2 separate regions of the Homo sapiens genome follow, and region 1 is reported to be linked to region 2. The links are microRNA targets in miRTarBase. Many come from high-throughput screens and were not tested one by one. Region 2 holds a microRNA gene; the other region holds the end of a gene's coding sequence.
What was found. Region 2 holds the annotated microRNA hsa-miR-214-3p (ACAGCAGGCACAGACAGGCAGU, at 4,167-4,188, opposite strand). A microRNA usually pairs through its seed, bases 2 to 8, with sites in the 3' UTR of a target mRNA and lowers its output. Matches are read on the target gene's strand: a 7mer-m8 pairs with bases 2 to 8, a 7mer-A1 pairs with bases 2 to 7 and ends in A, and an 8mer does both.

Region 1: miRTarBase lists SLIT3 as a target of hsa-miR-214-3p. Seed matches in the 3' UTR shown: 7mer-A1 at 5,631-5,637.

What each region holds. Positions count from the first base shown.
Region 1 is chr5:168,660,214-168,667,326 of GRCh38, forward strand. SLIT3 (slit guidance ligand 3) reads right to left here. Exons shown (of 36, transcript NM_003062.4): 36 at 1,527-6,476. The coding sequence ends at 6,241. Among named protein-coding and RNA genes, the nearest start is that of SLIT3-AS2, 43 kb to the right of the region's middle.
Region 2 is chr1:172,134,650-172,141,769 of GRCh38, forward strand. It overlaps MIR214 (microRNA 214), which reads right to left and starts at 4,258; the gene lies at 4,149-4,258. All of the region lies in intron 14 of DNM3 (dynamin 3), which reads left to right. It overlaps DNM3OS (DNM3 opposite strand/antisense RNA), which reads right to left. Exons shown (of 4, transcript NR_103486.1): 4 at 2,230-5,947. MIR3120 (microRNA 3120) reads left to right here and starts at 4,159; the gene lies at 4,159-4,239.

The sequences.
Region 1 (7,113 bases), not on the chromosome of region 2:
CTATGAACATCTTGGGCAGGATAATTCTTTGTTGTCAAGGAGCTGTCCTGTATATTGTAGGATGTTTAGCAGCACCCCTGGTCTCTACCTACTAGATGCTAATAGCACCCTGTGTCCCAGTTATACAATCAAAAATATCTGCAGACACTGCCAGATGTCTCCTGGGTGGGGTCAACACCTCTCCCAGTTGAGAACCTCTGCTATCGATTGATATAATAGGGAATTTGAGATAGAGGGATACACATCTAGGTCCCAAACCTGGGAGGAGGGGCTCCTGGCATAAACATGGGAGATGGACACTGTAGGTTTCTTGGCAGTAGCTCCTCCTGGCAGGAAAATCCAGGCTGTCTGACATGGTGTGTGTCAGTGCAGAATCCACTCCCTACCTATTTCAGATAAATGCACACTAAAATGTATAAAACTATACAAGGGCATCTTTGCTGGAGGCTTAGGGCCCCCAGTCAGTGTGACCTTGTCTTGCTCAGGGAGACCTGGGGGAAGAAGGAACAACCGGCTGGGGGCCACAGAGTCTAGCCCCTTTTTTAGCACCTGGTGCATCTGCTGCCCACTAGTGTCTTGCTCTCAGAGGGGTCTCCACAGGGCAGATGGAAGGCCATCTGCCAGGGAAGTGAGGATGACCTCCAGCCAGCCAGTGGCAGCCTCCAGACCCTTAGCAATCCTCCTTCTAAAAGTGCATAGCCCCTTGAGGATGCCCCAGGGCTGAGAGGCTGAGAGCCCTGCTTGCCCCTCCCCTCCCTCTCATGCTGTCTTGCCCAGGCCATCCTCTCTGGCTTCCTAAGTTGCTCGGGCTGCCTGCCTCCCTCGGATGACACCCACACAAAGCAAATATCTAGTGAGTACCGCAGGGCCAGGTTACTTCCCCTTCCATTTCTTGGTATTTGCCCCACCCCATGTCCCAATTCCTTAGGGAGGCCTTCTTGACCTCACTGCATGAAGCACCCACCCAGCTATTCTGGAGTGTCTCCTCTTCTTTATTTGTGGAAGTGAACTTATCACTATCGGGTGTTATCTTTATTTGTTGATTGGCACAAACCCCCTCAGTTAAACTCCAGGAGAACAAGGACTTGGTCTTGATCATCTTTGGAGTCCTCAAAGCGTAGAACAGTACCTGGCACATAGTAGATGCTCAATAAATACTTGTTGAAGGAACTGATAAAGGAGAAATTTAATTAGGCATTGGAGTCCTATAAGGAGGAATATTCCTTCACATATCAGTAGGGTGTTCTCTTCCTCTGAACTGTAGTGGCTTTCTTCCCCATGACCCTTGGCACCTTCTGTGGCCATAGGGACCACATCCCCTGCTGACCCTAAGCTGTGTGTTGGGTCGTCTCTTCAATGGTTCTGGTGAACTCTGGATCCATTTTTCTTACTTCATGATCCAAGAAACTGATTCTTTGATCTAATTCCACACCAGACTTTCCCCAGACCCCATGAATGCAGTCATCTTTGTTCCAGGGGGTTTGAAAATCAGGGGTAAAAATAAAGCAGACACCGTGGAGCAGGGCTGAGTTATGGTAGTCATGAGAGCATCTGATAGCTCCTCTGTGACTCATCCATTTATTTTAATGACATCTGAATATGACAGTATATTGAAAAAAGAATGCATGTTATTTATTCCATACTGGGGAAGTGCCACTATAACATTGTTTTAAAAAATCTTCAAAAATTTCCTATTAGAACCTATCATTGAATTAGAAAAGCAAGCTTTGCCAAATGCCTGATTATGCCTTTACTGGTCCTGCTAGCTGGCATGTTTCACCAACTTTTCCCTAGTGTTTCCTTTGGCACTGTTGAGCCCACACTACAAAACATGAACAAGTCCCACAAAACCACACTATGCCCTCTGCTTCCCCATCATGTGGGGACCATCTGCCTGGACATCCACTGTGGGGTAGCAGGAAGAACTTTGGCCTGGGTGGACACATGGGGTTAATTATCTGTGTGTCTTTGGTCTATGATCACCGCATTCTTCCATTTGTTCGACCCTCAGTTTTCCTGCCTACCAGTAATGCCCTATGACTCCTCCAGCTCTGGTATCTGGGATCTTGAGTCTGAGGGGCAGGTCACTTGTTGCTATGGGCTTCTGCTCCCAGCAAAGGCAGTGGGTGACTGCTTGACTTTAGGGTTCAGTCTGGCAATAGCTTTGTTTCTGGTGAAGGGAAAGGTTAGATCATCCTGGTCCTGGCCTTTCCTGAAGGTCACCCTGGGGCTCTTTTCCCCCACCTTTTTTTTCCCTCTGAGCTTGGGAGTTATCCCTCTTCTTGCCCTTCTTCTCATCTTTTTGAAGCATCAGACTTGAGTTCCTTGCTATGAGATTGAAAAGGCAAAACTGTCTTCTAACAAGGGCCTTTTGGCATGTCCATAACAGCAACAACAACAGTAATAATAACAACAGCATCTTACATTTAAGGTTTTTAGTTTACACTTTACAAAGAACTTTTAAATACATAATCTCATCGGCCATCGTACGGCCCCTTGGCTGAGTTGAAGAGAACTTCTTTTCCCTTTCCTGAATCCTGCTCAGGGGGGACACAGCTTGAGCGGCCTCTTCTGCCCACGTACATTGCCACACAAACACTGAACCACACTTTTTCAGGAGCAAATTAACTGAACTCTTCCTGCCTCATGGAATGTCCTGTTTCTAGAATGTGACTGCTCAAGGAGAGAGCGTTTTAATCATCATTTGTTAGAGGAGCCTCATTTCGGGGAGAATTTTCTTAATGGTCCTTGCATTTGGCATTTCTTAAAGTCAGGGCTTCCAAACTTGAGGGAGAAGGCTCAAAATTATAAGGGACAGACCTGGCCCTTTTGCTGTCTTGGTTGATGGGGGCTGGATTCAGGATTGGGCCCAGGGTGATGAGCAGAGGGAGGTCTCAGGTTCCTTGGGGAGGCAGAGGGAAAGCTGGCAGCCTGGTGACTCCTCCCAGGAAGCCAGTGACCCTCGGTGGGGCTCTTGAGATGGCAGGCTGAGTAGGCTCTGGGCTGGGTGGGGAGAGGCTAGCAGGGGCATTGGTGGTGGGATAAGGCTCAGATCCACCTGCCTAGGGGGAGAGGGGGGATGGGGCAATGGAGGTGGGGATGGGGAAATGGAGGTTGGGAAGGGTGTTGGGCAGATCCCAGGATCCTCTTCAAGAGCAGAGCTTCTAAGCTACCATAGACATTTGTGATCCATCTGGCCGGCAGTGTTTTCTAGCCACAGAGTAAACCACAGGGAGCTCTCAAGTCCATTTTGGGTGACAGCTCTGTCTCCTCTTTCAGGCCTTTATGCTGCCACAGCTCTCTTCCTAAACCAGAGCTTGTCTTGCTCTTCCCTTCCTCAAACAACCCTGCTGGCACCTGTGGCCCAGTTTAGCATGCACAGCTCTTTGTGGTCAAAACCCTACCTTCCTACCTACCCCATTTCTCTCTGCTCCTCAGTGTGCTTCCCATACTCTTGCCACCCTAGATTTTGACTCTTCCCCAAACAAGCCAGGCCTGGCCATATCTCATTGCTTTTTAAAAGGCCACTCCCAGGAAAGTTCAATTCCCTTTCTCACTCTGGCAAACTCCTATTCATCCTTAAAGACCTAGGACTAGAAGTTCCCTCCTCTGGACAGCCACTTCCATTGCTTGTATTGCCACTTAAGAGCTCCTTGTGTAATAAGGCAATTGTCCATTTTTATGACTGTTTTTGTCACAGGCTGTAGGATCCTCAAAGGCAGGATGTGTTTCTTTCCCATGAGAAGCAGGATGGTTTAGTGGTTGAGTGAGCAAGTTCTGGAGTCAGACAGCCTGGGCCCAGATCCTGGCTCTACGGTTTATTAGACATTTACTCTTGGGCAAGTTCTTTAACTTCTCTGTGTCTCAGTCTACTCAACTGTAAAATGAGTTAATAGTGTTTTAACTACATGGTTGTTTCAATAATTAAATGAATATATATCTATTTCACAATTAGAGTGGTATCTGATGTATAATAAAGTACTAAATAAATCTGCTATTATAATAATGTTTGAAACAGGCTGAGCATAGTGGCTCACACCTGTAATCCCAGCATTTTGGGAGACTGAGGCAGGAAGATGGCTTGAGCCTAGGAGGTTGAGGCTGCGGTGAGCTATGATCGAACCACTCTACTCCAGCCTGGGTGACAAAGCAAGACCTTGTCTCTAATGACAACAAAAAACAAAGCCATCATAAGGCACAGTACCTGGAACATAATGGAGATTTACATGCACATTTTTAGATAAATTCCTCAGCTATATCCCTCTCTCCCTTCTCTTCATCCCCTCCATCCCTTCCTTCTTTCCTTCCTTCCTTCTTCCAGTTGCCTCGTTTTCCTCCATCTTCCTTTCTTTTCTTTCTCCCTTCATTATTCCCTGCGTCTTTGGCCCACCATTGGTACTCACAGATCAACTAGGCTCCTCTAGGGAACCTGAGGGCTGAAAGGTCCAATGAATTCCAAACTCTTCTCCCTGAAACTCCTACAGTGGAAGCTCCTGGGGGAAGGAGGGATGGATGATAAGAGCCAGGGAGTTGGTGTGAACAGCTGAGCCCTGGAAGATATGTGGCTAACCTGATGGGGTGGAAGGGGGCAAATGGGAGTGAGGGAGGGAGAGACATGGAAAGAAACAGGGGCAGGGAAGTCCCCTTCAGGAATGGAGGCAGAGGCTGGATAGGCTGCCCTTGGTCACTTTCCCTAGATGCATAAGCCCTGGTCTCCAGAATCTTTCCAGATACTGCGGAGGGAGAAGGAGTGAGCAAGGCAGAACAAGAGCAGGAAAAAACATCATATTATTTCCTTTTCCGGCAGGGCTGCTCTGATGGATTTAAGCCGCCTGAATCACCTGTGCTCACCCATTCTAGAGGAAGAATCTCAAGCTTTGGGTCTGGACTTCTGGTCTGGCTCCTCCACTTATCTGGTGTGTGGCTTAAGGCAAGTTCCAGAGCCTGTGAGGGCCTAAACTTCCTTCTTAGTGAACCCAGCTCTACTCCCTTATCCTTCCCAGGGAGGCAGGGGTTGCATAGATAAAATAAGGTAAAGTTTGGATATGCATTGGAAAGTGTCACAGATGGGCAAGGAGTCTCTATCGTCATGCTGGTGACCTGGAGGATCAGGTGGCAGAGGCCTGTCTTACAACAAGAGCCTCCAAGAACCTTCCAGAGTTGGACATCTAGCGCTGTGGGCAGACTTGACTTGGCTCCCAGCCTTCCGCTTCCAAGAAGGGCTGACTACCTTCTCTACTGGGATACATTCCAATGAAAAATTACCTGGAAGGAGGAGAGAGGGCCAGTGCATGGGTCCTGAGGAGACACCATGATATTCTCTTCCCTCGCCTCCTCTAGGAAGACCCCTCTCCTGGGGAGGAGCAGGAAAAATAGCAGCTGTTTTAAAATTTGGTAAGACAGTTCCAAATGACACCTGTAGCAGACTTCAATAGTCAGTCCTCGATTGGAAGCCAGGGCCAGCCAGGAAGGAGAAGAGGGGTCCCCCAGTGGGTTCAGATACGGAAGCCAGGGCCACCCAGGAAGGAGAAGAGGGGTCCCCCAGTGGGTTCAGATACCCTGAAGGGGGGTCTGGGACAGACAGGGACAGCAATATTTTTGAGTGGCAGTGAGACTGAGAAGGCCAGGGCTCAGCAGCTTTTCCTGGAAGAACTGGGCATTTTGGGCACTGACATCCAGGACTCCGAAAAGCTGGGTAATTTTAGGGGAGGAAAAATAAAAGGGAGTTAAAAAACAAGAAACAAAGGTCTTTTCCTTCTCTCTCTTCCTCTTATTCCTTTTTCTGATCTCAATGAGCAGCTCTTGGTCTACTGCCGACATAATACCGTTTCATAAACATGAAAACATCTTCCTCCTTCCTCAGACAGGCTATCATTCTTTATTCTTATCCTTTTGTTTTAAAGCATTTTTATTAGTCTATTTTTTTCTTAAATTTTTAAACAGCTATTTTTAAAAACACAACAAATACACAACACAAAACTTGGTAAAAATAACTCACTATATGGTACATATACGCAGATGGTGTAATATATTTATATAATAAAAGATGAAAATAGTCACTTTCCATAATAAAAATAAGTTCTATTTTTTGTTTATTTTACAATATACTTAATATTCTCTTCTTCTTTACCTTCCTCTCCAGCTTCATTTCCTTCATGCTGAATCACCAGGGGGTCCCACATGGCTGTCCCAACTCCATCAAGCTGGAGTCCGAGAGGTGGCAGGCAGGCGGGCAGGGGCTTAGGAACACGCGAGGCAGCCGCACTCTAAGTGTCTCTCCACCTCTTCTACAAACGAGGAGCCGTCCGTGCACTGGAAGACGTATTTCCGCCGCTTGCTGCGGGTGGGCTGGCAGCACTGGGGCCCACAGCCCCCACGACATTCCATGATGGGCACCTTGGAGGCTGTGGCACATGATGCATAACCTTTCTGGCGGCGGATCACCTCTCGGACTACTTGTCCCAGGCACGGATTCTCTGCAGAGGGCATAGAAGTCAGGGCATTGGTGGTCTAGGTGGCCAGCAGGACCATGAGCAGTTCCCAGGTAGGCTGCTTTGAAATACTTGTGCTCTGAAGACTGTAAGAATTTATTCACTCATCCATCTGCCTACCCTCCCCTCCATCCACCCATCTATTTTACAAACAGGTGCCTTTCCTGTACCAGGCTCTCTGACAGGCTTACACCTAAGCCGTGAGGATATAATGATGACAAAAGCAGGCTTGGTCCCTTCCTTCAAGAAACCTAAAGTCAAAACTAAAACTAGATGACGCAAACTGATAGACTGTGGGCCAAATCCTGACCCCAGACCAATTTGGATCACCCTACATGTGCCTAAAAATTAATTAAATGTCAACATTCAAAAAGCAGGAGATTTCACCTGAAAATCTGGATTTCTGCCTTCCTTGAAAACAAGGAGGTCTGGCAGAGCTGAGCCTGCAACCCTGCACTGCAGTGATGGCTGAAGCTGAGTGCTTTAGATGGGGCAGGCAATCTCCAGTTTGCCCCAGTCACTACCACTCCCAATAGTCTGTCTCTCTTGGCCTAGAGTCTAGATACTATTTAAGTGAATATATTTAATAAAGAAACTGAGGTAGATGCTATAAAGAAAGGGA
Region 2 (7,120 bases):
TATGAAGGCTCTTTCCCAATAAAGCAAACATACAAATAAATAGGAAAACCTAGCAGATGCTGATTACAGGCTAGGAAGAAAATAAAGCCAGTGATGAGTTGACATAGAGTGTCTGGGATAGAGGACACAGGTAGGGGGTACTTTACATTGGATGGTCAGAGAAGGTTTGTGTTAATGTTCTGAGGCAGGATTGAGCCTGATGAATTTAAGGAGGGTAATTAAGTCCAGTGTGACTGGAGCAAAAAGAGAAAGGCACTCTAAAGATGAGGATTTTGATATTAAGAATGATGAGAAGTTTTTTAAGCTGGAGAGTCACATGATAAGATTTGAATTCTTTACTGATTCCTTTGGTTGCCTTGTGGAGAATGGATTGGAAGAGGGCGAAACTGGACTGGGGAGTTACTAGAAAGCTATTGCTTTCTACATCTATTGTGGTCTGCATAGATAATGGTAGCTTGGGCTGGGATGAGTTGTTGGAATTTGATAAAAATGAACGGATTTAAGAGATGTTTTTGGAAGGTGAAAATTGACATGAACAACTCATCACACATGCTAAGAGTTGCAGCAAACTGTAAGCCTCTTGAGACCAGGAGACATTGTTTGTTCCCTGTCCTACCACCAGGGGACATAGCACTGATAGGAGACACTAACTAAATATTGATTGAATGAAGGTGTCATTGAGCAAATGAATGAATAAATGCAGCATAATAATTAATCACGTCCTGGCATATCAAGTGTCAAAATTAAATTATTGAATTACAGAATAAAATTACCACTAAAGGTAGATTGTCTTAAATTGTCTTAAATTTTGTTAATTTTCATCATTGAAGGTTAGTGTTTTTTTGTTTTTGTTTTTGTTTTTTGTTTGTTTGTTTGTTTTTTATCCTCTGACTATATATATGTGACTTCCTGGATTGAAAATCATTTAAACAGAAAATTAATTTCCCAATGTTGTTTTCATACATTGCCCATATATGTTGTACATTTTTGGAAAGGGATTTAGTAAAAAGCAAGATGTGAGAATAAAACAGAAACTGTCATTTCAAAAGTTTTTTGAAATGGATTTTTGATCTAGATAATTTTACATTAATACTTTAAAATCAGACTTGAAAAAAATGATGGCTTTTCTTTAACTTATGTCTAAAATGTGAATTTTAGGAGAATGGGAGACCCTGATTCAAGGAGAAAAGAGCCTTATTTTTCTTAAAACCAATGAGAAATTTGTTTTAAAAATACATAAATATGTAAATTTTAAGAGATAATTCAAATCTCTGAAGAAAGAGGACTGTTAATTTATGTATAATAAAAGCACTTAGTCAATATTTATTCTATTTCTATAGCCCAGTGTGTAAAGATTTAAATCATAATGAGCTACTCCTAGGCAAGCAGAATAATGCAACATAGGCGTTTCCAGTGGAAATCTGCTAACCTTATACTATTGAGGAAAACCCAACATCTGCATTGAAATAAGGACATTCTTTGGACTCTTAAGAAATTACAGGCCTCATTTTTGTGGGTTGAAGTGTTTGGATAACTTGATAAGGAGATTATATAATTCCCTTATAGGGATATTTACTTAGCATTGTTTTCATTTTGTAACAATAACAAATGACAAATGTAACTTCAGAAATAGGAAACAAAATGACAGTTATATCCCTGGATGATCAAAGTTGTGAGATCAAGAAGTTATAGAAATATTCAGCTCTCTTTCTAGTTTCACTTATACTTTTAAGATTGTGCATATTTCCTACCAGATCTGCACACTCCCTGTGGTGGAAAAGGTCAGCGTCGACCCTGTGAACACTGTTCACACTCCTTCGTTAAGTTATTTAGTTAGCCAAAACTTAGATATTTTCACAAAAGTCCCAGTAAATATTGAACTCTAATCCACTTATATTACTTAAAATTCTGCATGATCACAGTTGTATATTTTTTTACATACATAAACTATCTGATGTTATTCTTTTTTAATATAGGATTATTCATACAAATATTTCCATGTTCTGGTATTATCTAAAGATTTATAATTTTGAAAAAAAGAGTATTATTCAATAAACCATAATGGCCAATCCTATTCCAAATTTATTAAAAATGAGTTTAGATTCAAACCCACTCCCCTATATGCATTATTTGTCCCACTCAAAAGTTTATCCTGGAAGAGCAATATTATCCTTTATATTACCCTTTCCCAGAAGAGAAAAATTTTTAAATGTGCCTCATTTAATGACTTTAAAATACATACAAAACATTCTTTCAAGCATTTTTTTTGAAAATTGAGTAAAAAATGTTTAACAAAAAAGGTGTTAACTTTATGTTTTAAGGAAAAATATTGAAAATGTTATCCTGGAGTGCCTCACCTTAGGATGACTCTGCTGCCGTCCTAGCTTTCCCTTTGGAGTCTGAAGGACGGGTGTAGTCTCCTTAATGTTCTGGCTAGGTCATTGTCTCATTCTGGGAGCTGTCAAGCACTCTCCTGAGCCTTGCAGGGTCCAGTAGAATAATTCCATACGTGAACTCTCATAGGCAGCATTTGCAACAGGTGGTACAAGGCATTTAAGATTGGGTAGAACGATGTCGATATTCTGTGAGTAATTTTTATATTGTCTTCCTGTTTATATTCTACATTTTGTAAGTATTGTTTAGGACTTTATTTGCTAGTAATGGGACTTTTATTTAAGGCAAAAATCTGCATCGTGCAATGTATCTTGCAGAAGCAGAGATGAATTTTAGCAGATGACATATTGCCATAAGACAAGATTGTTTAAATGAGAGAAATTTAACTTTAATCATATTTGTGCTTTGTAGTTTTGCCCCATCATTCAGTTTTTTAATTAAAGAAACTATAATGTCAGGTTTGGTTAAAATATCATTGTCAGAAAATTTGAAACTCACTGGGATCTTAGCTTTAAGACTGAGACTTTCATTTTAAAAATAAAATAGCTGAATGAAAAATAGTTTGCTTTAGTTAAGAATACATACATAAAGTGTTTAATTGTTAAATGTGAAAAAAGTTTTGAGTAGCCTTGTGTTACATTTTTTAAGCTTGACCAGAATCTAAGAAAGATGAAAATTAATTTCAAATACTGAAGCTAAAACATGTTAATGAACTAAATAAAAGTTGACACATTTCTAATTTTATCCATCTTCCCACCTTTTACCCTTAAGTATTTAAAGTATTCATAGACAAAAGCCATCCCTTATCATTTCACTCCAGTTAACAGTGCATAAACTGAAGTTTGGATATTTTCTCAAAAGATGTGTCAAAATATACATTTCAAGTGCATTAACCACTTTCCTTATGCTTCTGAAGATAAATGAATTGCCTGAACATCTCAAGATCTTGAAAGTTTATAGTGATGGAAGCATAGGTTGCAAGTGAATGTGTTGGCCTTGTAAATTCTACTCCTAGAACTGTAGCATAAGCACCTTCTTAATTAAAGAATGACGCAGTCATAAATTTATGTATACCATGACGCGTGGAAGTATCAAAAATTTCAACTTTCCATATGTCAAAAGAGGAGAAACTATTATTTTAATATAGTTGAACACTAGTTGGAAATAGTAGTCTTTTCACTGTGTTTTGCCCAGACCCAGACTGGCAGAGTTAACCCAGACTGGCAGAGTTAACTCAAAGCACTTGATCCTTTGGAATACTCTTTTTCTCCCTTTTCTTTTCTCTGTCTTTCCACCCTATCCCCTTCCAAAAAAAAAAAAAAAAAAAAAAAATCATGACATAGAAAACCATACTTAGTTTATGGACAAGAATTCTTAGAATAATTTATTCTTTGTTAAGCATCAGACTGAAGTTATATTGTTTTGTTATATTGAGTTTTTATATCAATATAGGGTGCTGCAAAGCTGTGTACAATAAAGGTCAAGGGTAGTGATTTGCTGACAACAATTAGGAAAAGAGAACTATAGAATGCACAGGAACATTTTCAGAAATGGGTTTTATTATATTTCATAGGCACCACTCACTTTACTTTTGGTGGGTTTTAATACTTGAATCAAAATAAAATAATACATGAGTTAAGTATTAAACCAACAGATTAAAACCCCAGGCCCCCGAGCCCCTCATTTTGGTTGTAGCTCTTGGTGTAGATGCTATGGTGTGAGGGCTGCTTTCTTTCAATGGCTGGTTGTCATTCAGGCTGGGTTGTCATGTGACTGCCTGTCTGTGCCTGCTGTACAGGTGAGCGGATGTTCTGCACAGCAAGTGTAGACAGGCAGACACATGACAACTCTGTCCAGCCAGGCCCTTGGTTCCTTCAGGTTTCCTTTGCTCATAGACAGATACAATCAGCCTGTTTTCCAGATTTGGTGATTTTGGAGAGTAAGGGGAAAGGGAGAAAAATACACAATATAATTAAACATTAAAACATTATGGAACTAAAAACAAGTTAGACTTTTGACTTTATTCAGAAAGTACATTTATACATTTGTTCCAAATGTGCTAACATGGATAATTTGCGTAACAGAAAACTCACATTAAAATTTTAAGGAAAAAAAGAGATTAAACACAAGGTTTATTCTTAAGTCCAATTCATATTATTACTGGCCCACATGTAGTCAGAGTTCAGCGTAATTGAACCAGATGTTTTTCCTCTTTGCAAAAAACTGCATATTTTAATACTGAAGTTAAAGATAAAAACTATGTTTATGCATGTTTCTTTTAGTAGATAAGTACCATAACCTTGTCCATGAAAAAGAAAATTATCATTTACATGGAAACAGCAGCCCTTTTCAAAATAATTAATGAGCCTAATTTATTTGGCAACCCAAGTTGCTGACTTTGGTATTTGATGCTCTGATAATAGGATCCTACAAGGGAATATGTTTTTACCAATTATATGTGAAACAACAGGAACCTATTTAAATGTCTCATTTTCCTTTTAAATGCAAAGTTTATAACTGTGGATGTGAAATCAAATTAAAGGCAGTTGTGAGCTTAAGTTATCCACCTCTTAATTAACTATAGGGCCATGCTGTGAATCAAAAGGGTACAAACTGGAAGGCTGTTACTCACAGTGATGCTCAGAATGTGTTTTGGATATAGTTAGTGCAATATAGTTACAAAATAGTACTTAAGAAAAGGCAGAAAAGGCAAATTCATTTCATATCCAAAAAATTAAAACCAGATCCTTTGAAAATTTTTCTTATAATTTATATGAGCTAATAGTGTTAAATATGCAGATATAAAATTTAATTCTGGTGAGTTGAGAGTAATTCTATTTTAATATCAATTATCAATTCACATCTTTAGAAGTATTAAGCAAATTCCCCTCCCCTTTTAAAAACAAAAATATCCAAATAGTCAAAATTCCAGTAAGTAGGACTTCTTAAAAAACACAGCACCAAAAAAACACAGTATTGTCCAAGGATTGTATAATTAGACATTTTCTCAAAGAACTTTAAGAAAAACAAACAGTTTGTGATTTATCTTTAATTGTAAAATTCTGAGAAAATAGCAAATAGAAACTTAATGGAAAGCAAAATAGTTTTAGATACTGAGAAAATTACAATTTTCTACAAATCTGGACTTTTATGCAGTGATTAGGTAAGGTAATGTTTTAACAAAAGCTAATAAGTGCCATTTTCTGTGTATTTATGTAATTTCAAGAAAACAAATTTCCGATTCTGTTTCGGCCATCACTTTCGAGTAAAGGAACTTTTTTTTTTTCTTGACAGAATCAAAAACATGAGTAAACTTGGCTGTTATTTAAATAATTACAAGGTTAGAGTATGCCAAAAACCAGTGCCTTAAAATACTATTGTGTTATTGTTGCTGCATTCAGTGCAACAGAAAGTAATTATAGAGTGATTCACTTACAAAGAGTATATTGGTGGAAATTAAAAATTACTATAATTCTTTATAACTTTTCCTCTCTCTCCCATAAATAATTTGATCCAGTTAACTCTGCTCAATTAAAGGAATGATGCATGCAACCTGAAAAAATAAAAAGAAATATTTGTGAGTTTGTATGTTATGCTTTAATATAAAACAGTTTTATTAAGGCAAGATATAAAAATTTTTTGAGCCAGAAAAACCACAACAGTTTTTCAGGGGAAAAAAAAAATCTTGCTGAAAACAATTGTTCTATTCATAAGGCTTTTGGACAATTTATGTTTCTGATAGATTTTTAAAACACACTTACAGTAACTATGTGACATATGCACACTTCATTGTTATGTTGAACCTGCCCCTAAACTTGTTAAAAAGATGAAAGACTGAAAACCATATTGACCTTTTTTTAATCTCCCAAATTATAGGTTGAATATTAGTTTATTATTACTTAAAATACTAGCTAAAACATAAAAGAGCTATTTGTATTATTATCATACCATGTAATTTTTAGTGTGGTTATTACACCTTGTTTTCTTTTTGTCTTTTATTTCTTAAGGAAAAAAATGTAAGAAAAGAATTGTCTTCTAAGTCTTCTGTAGTGAAATTAAACCAAAGCAACTCCAGGAAACTGGCTGTCACGCTAAGTCAAAAAATTCAAAATGAAGATTTAATTATTTTTCCTAATTTACTTCGTTATCTCTAACTATTAAAACTGATAAAAATTATTTGTAAGAGACCTTTGAAAATGAGTAAATATTTATTTCTACTTAATTTACAGAACATGAAAGTAAGAAGGGATTTGAAGTAAGAAAGTTTCTATCTTAACTCAGGAATTTCCTGTCTCAGGTTAAAGCCTGACCTTCTAGTTATTTTAAGCCAGGATTTCTGAGTGATGGTCTCTTAGTTATTATTTTGACGTTATTGTGATGGGTGGGCTATTCTCCTTAGAGCAGAGTAAAGTGCATTGTTTATAAAGAGCAGATCCCTTACAGAGTAAGTGAAAGCTTTGGCGTCTCTTTACCGAGCATGGATGCTTGTGGATGAGTGAATTTTTTCACATTACCAAGTTGTACTTTTTATATCTTATAACAGCTTAAGACTTCAACCAAAAAAGTGGGGAGAATTCTTTCGTTAGGATTTTTATGCCTAAACTGTTTCCCACAGAGTGAAATACATGGGTGGTCTGTAGGCGAGAGGTGGGGGTAGATAGTATATTTTGGTCTTTTACAAACATAAACATATTATCTGGGCCGAAAGCCCGAATGCCAAGCAGGA